2 separate regions of the Homo sapiens genome follow, and region 2 is linked to region 1. Evidence: fine-mapped expression QTL. A gene starts in region 1. The other region holds a variant in brackets. All regions are shown on one strand. Distances are between the middles of the regions. Region 1 holds the start of FAM135B (family with sequence similarity 135 member B). Region 2 overlaps FAM135B (family with sequence similarity 135 member B).

Evidence for each region. PIP is the estimated chance that this variant, and not a neighbour inherited with it, causes the effect. A credible set is the group of variants that fine-mapping cannot tell apart.
Region 2: its variant is the best candidate, but not a certain one, in a credible set for the expression of FAM135B in testis (GTEx, PIP 0.74).

The regions. Positions count from the first base shown.
Region 1 is chr8:138,494,986-138,500,365 of GRCh38, forward strand. It overlaps FAM135B (family with sequence similarity 135 member B), which reads right to left and starts at 2,276. Exons shown (of 20, transcript NM_015912.4): 1 at 1,686-2,276.
Region 2 is chr8:138,438,304-138,443,683 of GRCh38, forward strand. All of the region lies in intron 1 of FAM135B (family with sequence similarity 135 member B), which reads right to left. Among named protein-coding and RNA genes, the nearest start is that of FAM135B, 56 kb to the right of the region's middle. The variant T/C (reference allele first, on the strand shown) is at 3,337.

The sequences.
Region 1 (5,380 bases):
TTTATGTTGCCCTGAGTGAATCTTGGACCAGACTACAGTGTTTCCACTGTGAGTCACTGACTAATATTTCCACTCTCTTTTCGTAGTTGATGGATGTTTAATGATTTGCCAATCTGAGGAAGAGAGATTCTTTAGAAAACAATAATCCCTTTTACTTGCACAAGACATCAGGTTTTAAAAAGCCCTTCCCAAACATCCTCTCCACATCCCATTGGATTGTGATTGAGCCTGGTAAACTGCAAGACTTGTTAGTTAGTATCCCCATTCTCCAGATGAGAGAAAGAAGCCTCAGTGAGGTGGAACAACTCAAGGTCACACAGCAGGTGCATGAGGAAATCAGAGTTCAAATCCATGTTTTCTGACCCTCCAATCTGGTCCACTTTCCTCTACACCTAACCATCTGTCTAAGCTCTGATAACATCATCCATATTATGACATAAATCTCCAGATGAGAGGTTGGCCAAATCACATCCCCTTGGGTAACATAACCACACCATAAATTAAAAGCCCAATTAAAGAACATAGCCTTTTAACTGGGACTTAGACTGTCCCCCGAGGCCACGATATAAAGGAAGAGCCCTTTCAAAGTCAATGGCTGCCTATCCTGGATATTATTCAGAGGCCTACTTACCTACATGCACGAACTTTCAGACCCTAATTATTCACATGCTATCTTCCTTCTTCCGGGGCCCTGGTCCCAGCTGATCTGAGTTTGTAATCACTCCCCAAGCTCTGGCCCTCTCTCCAGCCTGCAGATGTAGTTAACAGTCCATCACACTGTATGGACAGCCCAGGTGCCTCTCGGCTTTGACACATCACTTAACATCAAGAGCATCATAACCTGATGGAAAACAATGCCCCCTGGTTCAAATGGACAACTGAAGCGGTGTCTCCAGCTGTCTGAAAGCGAGATAGTTTGCCAGTGGCCAAGGAGCAAGGATTGTCACTATGAGCGATGTGATTCTTGTTTTGCTGGCAAAGTGGGGTGGGGAGCTAGAAATGAGGTGGGGAGAAGGGGAGGGCATAGTCTTGACTGCTAGCTCAAAATTTTATTTCTATTCCCATCCTATCCCTAATAGTCAACGGCAATAACATGATACTCCTGTGTCCCAAAATAATAACAGTTACTACTTGCCTCGTCTAAACATCCCCTCCAGTGACTGGGCTTGAAGCTGGCTCTACAGATCAAGAGCTGGTCCCTTTCCATGTCACAGCTGAGCTGCAGTGTCCCCGCACACCCCTGTCCCCAGCCAAGCCACAGGAAGAACGGGTCTGTGCATTCGCCTGGATCACAGGGAATCGCTGCCACTGTCCCCTCCACCCCAGTGCGGTCTTCTCCTGAGCCTGGCCCCCGGGTTCCCTGGCTCCAAGGACCCCAATGGCCAAGGTCTGCATGCGCCCCCTCAGCCTCCATCTGGGACTCCTGGGGGGAACCCCTCATTAACCCAGCCTCTCCGCTCCTTTCACAGCCCTGGCCCTTCTTATCCCCTCAAGACCTGTCCAGATGTGCAGCAAACCTGGAGGGCAGAGAGACTGGGGAAAATCGAGGGAGATAAACCACATTTTGCGGCGGAATCGCTGTTCCGTGACAGAAAGCCATCCAACTGGCAACCACGCTTGCAGAAGCGTCACTACCACCGACGAGAGAGTTTTGCAGCTGCCGACCCCGAAGCGCTCTCACCTACCTGTCTCCACTGCAGGGCTCCCCTCTCTCTCCCCCGGGGGCCGCGCTCCTGGGTCCCTCTCTCTCCTCTTTCGCCGTCTCTGGCCGCCAACAGTTGCGGCGGCGGCGGCGGCGGGCGGACTGGGGAGTCCGCAGCACCTGCGAGCTGGTGTTGGGTCCCCGCGGCGAGGCTGCCTGGAGGAGGAGCGAGCGGATGCTGCCCTCGCCCGCCGCCGCCGGTGCTGATGCGGTTGCTATGGTTATGGAACCCCGCAACTGCCCCCCTCTCCGTGCAACAGCTGCCCGGCCGCGGCCTCCGGGCAGCCCCAGCGAGCAGGCGCCAGGACGCGAGGCTGTCAGCGCGGTCGGGGGAACGCAGCCGCCAGCGCCGCAAGAAAGCAAGGACCGACCGGCTGCGCCCGCGCCGCTGGGCTGGCGCCTCCCGGGCTGCGCTCACCTCTGGCGCCCTCACTCCTCTCCTTCCTCCGCCGGGACGCGGCCAGACCCTCCGCGCCGCGCCGCGCGCCCTCGCGGCCGGGAGAGCCCGCCCTGCTGCTCCCGCTGGCTCCGCTCCGCAGCCGCTGCGCACCGCGTGGGTAGACGCTGCGCGACTGGCTGGCGGCGCGGCTCACGCGCTCCCACCTCGGTCCCTCTCCGCCGCGAGGCCCTGATGGGAGCCCGGGGCGGGCCGCCCGGCGGCCAAACCCCGCCCGCTCGGCCGCCCGGGTGCCCAGGGCGCAGGCTGCGGCCCCGCGTGCGGCCCTCCCAGACTGACCGGCGCGAGCATGCTCAGTCCCCGCGGCGGGGCTCCCCTCTCGAGCCAAGACCCCAGGCCTCGGGCAGGAAAAGGGTCCCTGCAGATATCCGGGGGCGGGGCGCGGCGGAGAACTGGCTGGGAGGGGACTGTTGAACTTGGAAGAGAAGCCCAGGCAACAAGTAGATGCCTGAGAAAGGGTAAAAGCGCTGAGCAACCCATACCTCCAATGCGAAGTCAGCAGTGGCCTTCAACCAGCCAGCCGGCCCGTCATCCGATGGGCTCCTCACTTCATGCTGAACGTGGGGGTTCACAGACGTGTGAGATTCTGTCCACGGAGGAGGGAGAGGAAGATTGGGGAGGGTTAAGCCAGCTCCCGTCTACTGAGCATTCTTAAGGGGCATTGGGAACTCTAATTATCACCACCACTGTGCTGGCAAGTTCTCGTGGCATGCCTGTGACAGATGACAAAACAGCCTTAGAGAAGGAGCCAAGACTGGGACTCGGAAGCCCAGTGACCCGTCCACTAGACTCGGCTGCACTAACTCCACCCAGGAGGAGGCAGGGAATGGAACCAGGCATTAGAGGATGACTATGTCCCCCATTAGACTGGGCTGCACTAACTCACACCCCAGGAGGAAGCAGGGAATGGAACCAGGCAATTGCAGTTGGCAGGAGGAGTCTCTAACCCTGTCAGGCTGGGGGCAGGGGCAAGTAATTGGGGAAAGATACCTGAAAAAAAGGTATAAGAACAAATGAGTGGGGCGGTGAAGGGTAGAGAAGACTGCTCTTTCCAGGACAAGAGGAGCAGGGTACAGAGGCCTGGAGGCAGGACAGAACAGCAGGAACCTAGCAGCAGCAGGCAAGGAGAGGTGAGGCAGGCGAGTGGTGAGGTTTACAGGGCAGGCACTGCACACCAAAGGCCTTGCGATCCAAGTGAAGGGGTTGGAATTTGACAATGTGACCCTTAGGATGGGAAGGGAATGGGGAAGGTGGTGGGGAGGAGGGCAGTGAAGCAGTTTAAGCAGGAGAAAGGCTGGGTGGGAATGAAGGGAAGATCACCTTAGTTGAAGTGTGTGTGGTGCTGGCTAGGGTGGGGATTAAGGCTGCAGAAAGAGGTGTCCTAAGGAGGCTGTTGACATAGTGGGCCTGGGCAGATGGAGGCTCTGAGCTATCTACCCTGCTTGTCCTCCCCACAGCACCCAGCAAGCCCAGGGCAATGCATACCCTCAGTAAATGTTTGGTGAATGGCAAATAAATATGAATTTCTCAATAGAGAAAATGGGTGCTTTTCTTTTACAATATTTGTCTCTTAAATGTGTTCATAACCATATGGCATTTATTTTGCTATTGACATTGCATTTTTATGCAACCTTATTTTTGAAAGTCAGTGCAAGCACTCATTATTTTCCTCTGCATTTTCTAGTCCCCAGCAGTAGAGATATGCCAGGAGCATAGGATTTACTTGTATTGGATGTATTGTCTGGATAAAACAGCTCCATGATTTATTAAGTGAAAAAGCAAAGTGCAGAATAGATAAAATAAGATAATATTAAAATAAGACAACTGTTGTGAAACAAGGAGACAGATACACATATTTGTATTGCTTGCATTGGCATAAAAATACGCTAGAAGGCTATGTAAGAAACTTGGAGAAGTAGCTATTAGCTATGAGGGTGAAGATGGGTGGAAGAACTAGGTTGACGAGGTTAGAGTGAGAGTGAGAATTTTGACATACACTATTTTTTTGTTTCTTGAGACAGGGTCTTACTTTGTTACCCAGGCTAGAGTGCAGTGGCACAATCTTAACTCACTGCAGCCTTTAACTCCTGGGCACAAGCAATCTTCCCACCTCAGCCCCTCCAAGTAGGTAGGACTACCATGCCTGGGTAATGTTTTTATTTTTTATAGACCTACCACCATGCCTGGGTAAAGTTTTTTATCTTTTGTAGACCTACCACCATGCCTGGGTAAGGTTTTTATTTTTTGTAGAGATGGGGTCTGGCTATGTTGCCCAGGCTAGTCTCAAACTCCTGGGCTCAAATGATCCTCCTGCCTCAGCCTTGCTGGGATTATAGGTGGGAGCCACTGCACTTGACCTCAACATACACTTTTATAAAACATTTTGATGTTTAAGCCAAAAAGAAATTGCACATATATGTAAGTGTGTATGTGCATATATATAAACACACACATACGTATGTGTGTATATGTGTGTGTATGTGTGTGTGTATATATACATATACACATAATCTGTATATATAATCCATGACTAGAATCTCAGTGAATCTTGAAATAACCTCAAAGGCAACATGCAACGTGTGCCAGTGAGACCCTATGTCCCCAGAGATGCCCCCAATCCTTGTTCCCCATGTGGTAAAATAGTATTATGAATTATGACTGCAAAGTCTTCTTCAAACTGTGCTCATGGACTGCCCGGCATGACATTAATCAATCAGCTGCAGTGATGCACTGTTGGCCCCGAGATCCCCTTACCCATTGTCCTCTTAATGAATGGGCCTTGTGCAAGGTAAGGCCCTGAACAGCTGGGGCCTGGGGGAGGTCTGGAAGGGAAAGCCTCTGCCACTGCCCAGGTTGGGCCTTGGTGGAACTGACTCAAAAGCAGCAATAGCCCTCCACTGTTATCTCCCACCAAGAAAATGTCCCACTGCCCATCAAATCACAGAAGCCAGAAACCTACCATCATCCTAGGCTTCCTAACCTCTCCCTCTCTCCCGTTCTCTCGACTCTTCTCATCTCCCTCAACCGAATTAATTGCCAACGTCTGCCAATTCCACCATGTAAATAGCTCTCAGAGTCATCTATGACAGGGGATCCCTGAGAGATTTTTAAAAATCTTCTTCAAAAAGGGGTCATGAGTGATGACGTGTCTTTCAAGAGAAATGGTGTTTTGGCATGAGCAGTTACAGATAGGACAGATGGACACTGGTTCTGAGATGGAT
Region 2 (5,380 bases), 57 kb before region 1:
TCAAGTACTCCATGAGAGTTCCTGGAACTCTCCTTCCTTAGCAAAAATAATGTGGGGCAGAATCAAAAAATATAATAAAGGGTAGTAGAAAGAGTGATAATATGAGTGTCTTCAAATACCAGCTAAATCTTGATTGCTGCTACATCTACAAATCAAATTTGAATTGCACTTCTGAGCTCTATCAAAGAAAAAAACAGAGCTAGGCAGTAGTTAAAGTGGTAGAAACAGACTCTATTCTGGATTATTGAAACAGGAGAAAAGATGCTTCAATATAAAACTGGGTTCAATTTTGAATACAGCACAAGCAAGGGGAAATATATAACCAAGGAACAAGAGAGGGATCAGAGGATGGAAAACAACTAAGAGAAAACCTCAGAAGTAAAAGGATTCTGGCAAAACCCACTGAACTGGATTCTTGCCAAAGACAGGCCAGGATGATCAGACATCACCTGAGGATGATGCCTGGCACAGTAGTCCCAACCAGATACTGGACCAGCCATTTAATAATATGTAGCAAGGACTAAAACCAGGTTTCCTGGGGACTGCATTTTACTCCTTAGCATTTCCTGTCTTTCAATGGGATGATCTTCTTGACCTAAAATTGCCATGGCAACCTTGTGGGTGGGGTGGAAGAGGTCACTATACAAACAGGTTATCAGTGACAGATGTGGCTTCTGTTCCATAACTGGTACCTAAAAAAACAAGTGGGTCATCACATTAGCTTGACTCAGGACATCTCTCACCAGGCTATTAGCCTTTAGAAAACACAGAGCTCAATTAACTTTCATGGAAATTGGATTATTTCCTGCCCATTTGAAGGCCTTCATTTATCCACCAGGAGCTGTACAAGGCAAAGTTTCTGGTGTGTATATACCTGAAAATCTTTGAGGAGGCTCCAGTACAAAGATAATATTCTTCTAGGTTACAAAGAACCTGCATGTAAATTACCAATTATCATTTCATAATGGCCCTGTGTGGTCAATATGAGAGAATCATAGCACATAGGACAATAAATGACGTTCAAGATTAAGCAGCTAATCACATATGTCATCATTAGGTATGAATTCAGACCTGCCTGATCCCAAATCCCATTCTCATTCCACTACACCATGTGACCTCAGTAGTCCTCATGGGTTACAAACACCAGTCTCATCTTCAAACTCCAAGGTAAAGCTTCATAGGCCGACCTCATAACATCAGAGGAGGACATTTCCTAGGGGGAGGGAACATGTCATGTTGGGTTTCCCTTTGACTGGAGTAGTCAAGGGATACTCCAGTCTCTGTGAATGGGGATGAAGCATTAACATTAACAGAAAGGGAAAGAACTTTCTACTGTAGTGCCAGAACTTTCCACTGTTACTGTGTGCCAGAAGCTCTCCCAGGTGCTTCACAGCTGCTCTCTAATTTAATCCTAACCCCTCTGCTAGGGATGTATTATTGTGTCCCATGTTACAACTGAAGAAATTCGTGCTTAGAAAGTTTGACTGTCCAATGTTGAAATGTGAGCAGAAAAGGCAGACCTGAAATTTGGAACCAGTTATTGGCTACAGGGCTTTGTAAACTTTGGCCAAGCACTTTCCATCACTCCAGGTACTTCTAAAGTAATTCAATAGATAACTGAAGCAGTCATGGTTCCTGGGATGCCAACACTAATCCTGGCTTACCTGTGCAAGAATGGACCCACTGGAGAACTGGAGTGCAGGTGCGAGGATCATAGGGAAGATAGTGTGATGAACAAGGCTAAGAACTAAGAGCTATCAGGGTGTTCTTGCCAGTCTCATCAGTGAGAACTTGACAAGCTCACCAGGTTCCCACCACTGGGCTGCAGGAACTATAATGTTTTCTTTTGTGTTGACTCATCTCAGTTAAGACTTAAAGTTCCAGGTGAGAGGTAGCTTCCTGGCCATATTAAGGTCATCGCCCCAGCTTTTGGCTATGCTCTTGCAAATAAATGTCTCAGGAACCCTTAAGCCACCCCAGAAGAAGGCATATTTCTGGGGTTACTTTCAACCAAGAGCATACATTCAAGAGACAATTCATCTAGAGGAATGTCTGGGTGCTATTAGGAGGGAGAAATGGGTGCAAGATAGTGACAAATATCTAGGACAAAAGTAAAATATGGGCTTTATATTTAACAGATAATACATACAAAAGTCCAAAAAAGGTAAAATTAGAATTTAAATATTTATAATAATGCACATGAAAGTACTAACTGCATTGTCTAAATCATATCTAATAAAATCACCATCACCGTCATCACCAAAATCATCATCATTGCTATCATTACAAGATAACATAAATCAGTTCCAGAGCCAGACCACAAACCTAGGTTACTGGACACCTTACCCAATACTTTTTTGACATGAGATATTTTAGAGGTGTCTCTCACAGAGTATAGATGGGAAACATCTTTAGAAAGGCAAGATCAATTTAAAATCTATCACATTTCTGAGATATACTCATACTGTAGGCTTCCTCTAATTGATTGAAAAAGTGGCTATGATATTTCATGACATGCAACTCAAGAGGTAGAGCCAATTTCCATGCCCCTTGGTCTGGGTGGTAACTGAATATGCAGAAGTGAAACTGTGTGAGTTCCTGAGCCTTCTACTTTGCTATTTTGGAGTGTTCCTGCCACTATGTAACAAAGCCTACACTAGAATACTAAACACAGACCTTAAAGAAAGAGAGGAACAGTTAGCGCCTGCACCAAGACCCCCACACATGTGAGTGAAGTCATCGTAGACCCTCCAGCCTCAGTGGAGGAAGTGCTCACTCTAGCAAGTGCCTTGGATGACCGAGTGGCTGCTCCACGTGGCTACAATGTTAATGATGAATACAAGCATGCTGGGATGGATATTTTTTACAGCACTGGAGAGTAAACAGAGGAAAATAACAAGATCTAGCCTTCAGACTGTCTATCAACTCAGCTCTGATGAGAGAACAAGTTTGTTTCTGGGGTAGCCCTAAAATAATCTCTTATTTCATGTAGTCACAGGGAAGATAAGGCTGAAAATCAGAACTAAAACTTTCTTATGCAGGTTGCAGAATTATGAGGAAAGCCAAATTTGCACACCCAACAAGTCTCTTCTGTGAGCTTTAGGGCATCAGTTGGAAAGAGTGGGACAATGACACTTTGAATGGGGGTGTTTTATTGGATTGAGACCAAACTGGAAATCTTTATCCATCAGCATCACTATTGTGTGAAGAACTAAATACACTCTCTTGAACACAGCCTGACATCCTATTTGCTTATTTTTTAAACAATGCTTTCTCCAGTTAGTACATACATTCCACGAGAGAAAGAATTTCTGTTTGTTTGCAGATTTCACTCAC[T/C]ACCTGAAACAATGCCTGCAAGTATGTTCTCTTCTTTTGTGACTTCCCTTCCAATTCTCTGCTTTCTGCCATATAGCTTCTCTGCTTTTTTTTTTTCCTTAGATTAGCTTGAGACCTTGATTCAAATTCGATCATATGAGTGGACCTAGGAAGCAAGGATATTTTACCCTCAGCAGCTGTGAGAAGGGGGTAGTCTGAAGACTCAAAGAGTGCAGTCTTGATGACAGAGAATATGCTGTGTGAGGAGACAGCAAATAAATAATTACAGAGCAAAAGAGAGAGAAATTTGGAAGGAAGGAGGAAATAAGGGGGAAAAAGAGAGAAGTGTTGGGAAATCACACACACACCGAGTGATGCAGATTGGTGTTAGTTGAATATTTTGTATGTCAAGTTCTGTAAGTCCTTATGCAGCAGGCAAACGATGTGAAGGACCATTGTATTATCTCCTCCTTTAATATTACAAATGTTGGAAACTGAGGGTCTTAAACTATTACATAATCTGTCCAAGGTATATGAAATAGAACTAGAATACAGCTTGTCTTAGCCTAGCATCTTCAATTTGGAAATAAAAAAATTTAACGTGAAGAATATGGACACCATATATATATATATATATATATATATATATATATATATATGAAAAACCTTGGCAGTTGAATATCTTTTTATAGGCACAATGTATATGTTTGGTTGTGTGTCTATATTTCTGTGTTTACTATTTTATTTGTTCAACATGAAACATTTAATGAGCACGTACTACTATGTGTCAGGCACATACAACATCCTTTGAAGTGAATGCTGTTTAACATCCTCTTTCAATGGGTTTAAAAATGTCAAGTGATAGGATGTAGCTAAGACTTAGGTTAGACCTCGCAGATCTAGAGTTACTATTTTTTCTACTGTGTTGTCTCAACCTGACCTCTACCACCAAACACAAAGCAAAATAAAACAAAGCAAATAAAAACAGAAAGAAAGAGAGGAGCACAAAAACAATCAAAAACATTCTGGAGAGTAGCCAGGATGTTATCCCAGGCACTCCACAGAAAGCAGAATGTAAAAAGTAATAGATCTCCAATTCACCAAGTCCCCTTAGTAATGAATTCCAAGCAAACCACATTGTATCAGAAAGCCCTGCTGTGCTGAGGAGTTCCCACTCCCAGGGGGAAGGACTGATGGGCTCTAGCTGTGTCTATAATTTGATAAGACAAGGACAGCAATGGAGTTTGGGAAATGGATCAATTTTAATGCAATGCCACTGACAAATCAGAAAGGACTACGTGATGGTTGTCAGGAGAACATCCCTGCACCTCCTCGTCCCTGTGTGCGAGGATGGCTTGTCTTTAATAAGTCAGGGGATTACAACCCCAGTGAGGCTGCTGCTACTGATGAGTCAGGACTCACCCAAAGGCTTGCATTAAATGGAATGTAAAGACCCCAGTAGGTCCTATCTCAAGGCTGTGTGTTTGTGGAGTTGTGTGCAAAGGAGAGAAATAGCCCATGATCCACCCTGATGCCAGGCCATAAAAGCCTCGTTGCTCATCACATCTGGGTAAAGCAGATTTTATCAATCCCCCCAAATAAAATAGGAAATTAATATCCCAGAAATAATAGGTTATTGAGACAGAAATTGAAGTCTGGTCTATCCATTCAAATATTCTTTTCTTTTTCTCTTTTTCTTTCTTTTTACCAGATCCTGTGGGTTCCAAAGACATTCTCCAAAAAGGAGCCAGAAAATATGATCTGAACTCTTGAAATCAGTATTATATGGGGTCCACTTAAATACCTGGGTCTTTCACTATGAAGCACAAAAGCAGGAAACCAAAAGCAAACAAAAAAAAGGACATTTTTCAAAATCTTACACCAAACCTGAAAGGCAGAACTCACACAAATAAAATTGCTAATTAGTTAATCCAAGACATCCTTATTTTCAAAATTGTCATTCATCAAATTAATTCACTCAGCAAGTGTTTACTAAGCACTGACTGAGGGACAAGGGCTGTTCCCAATACTGGGAATTAGAGAGCAAACAAATGACAGGGTGTAT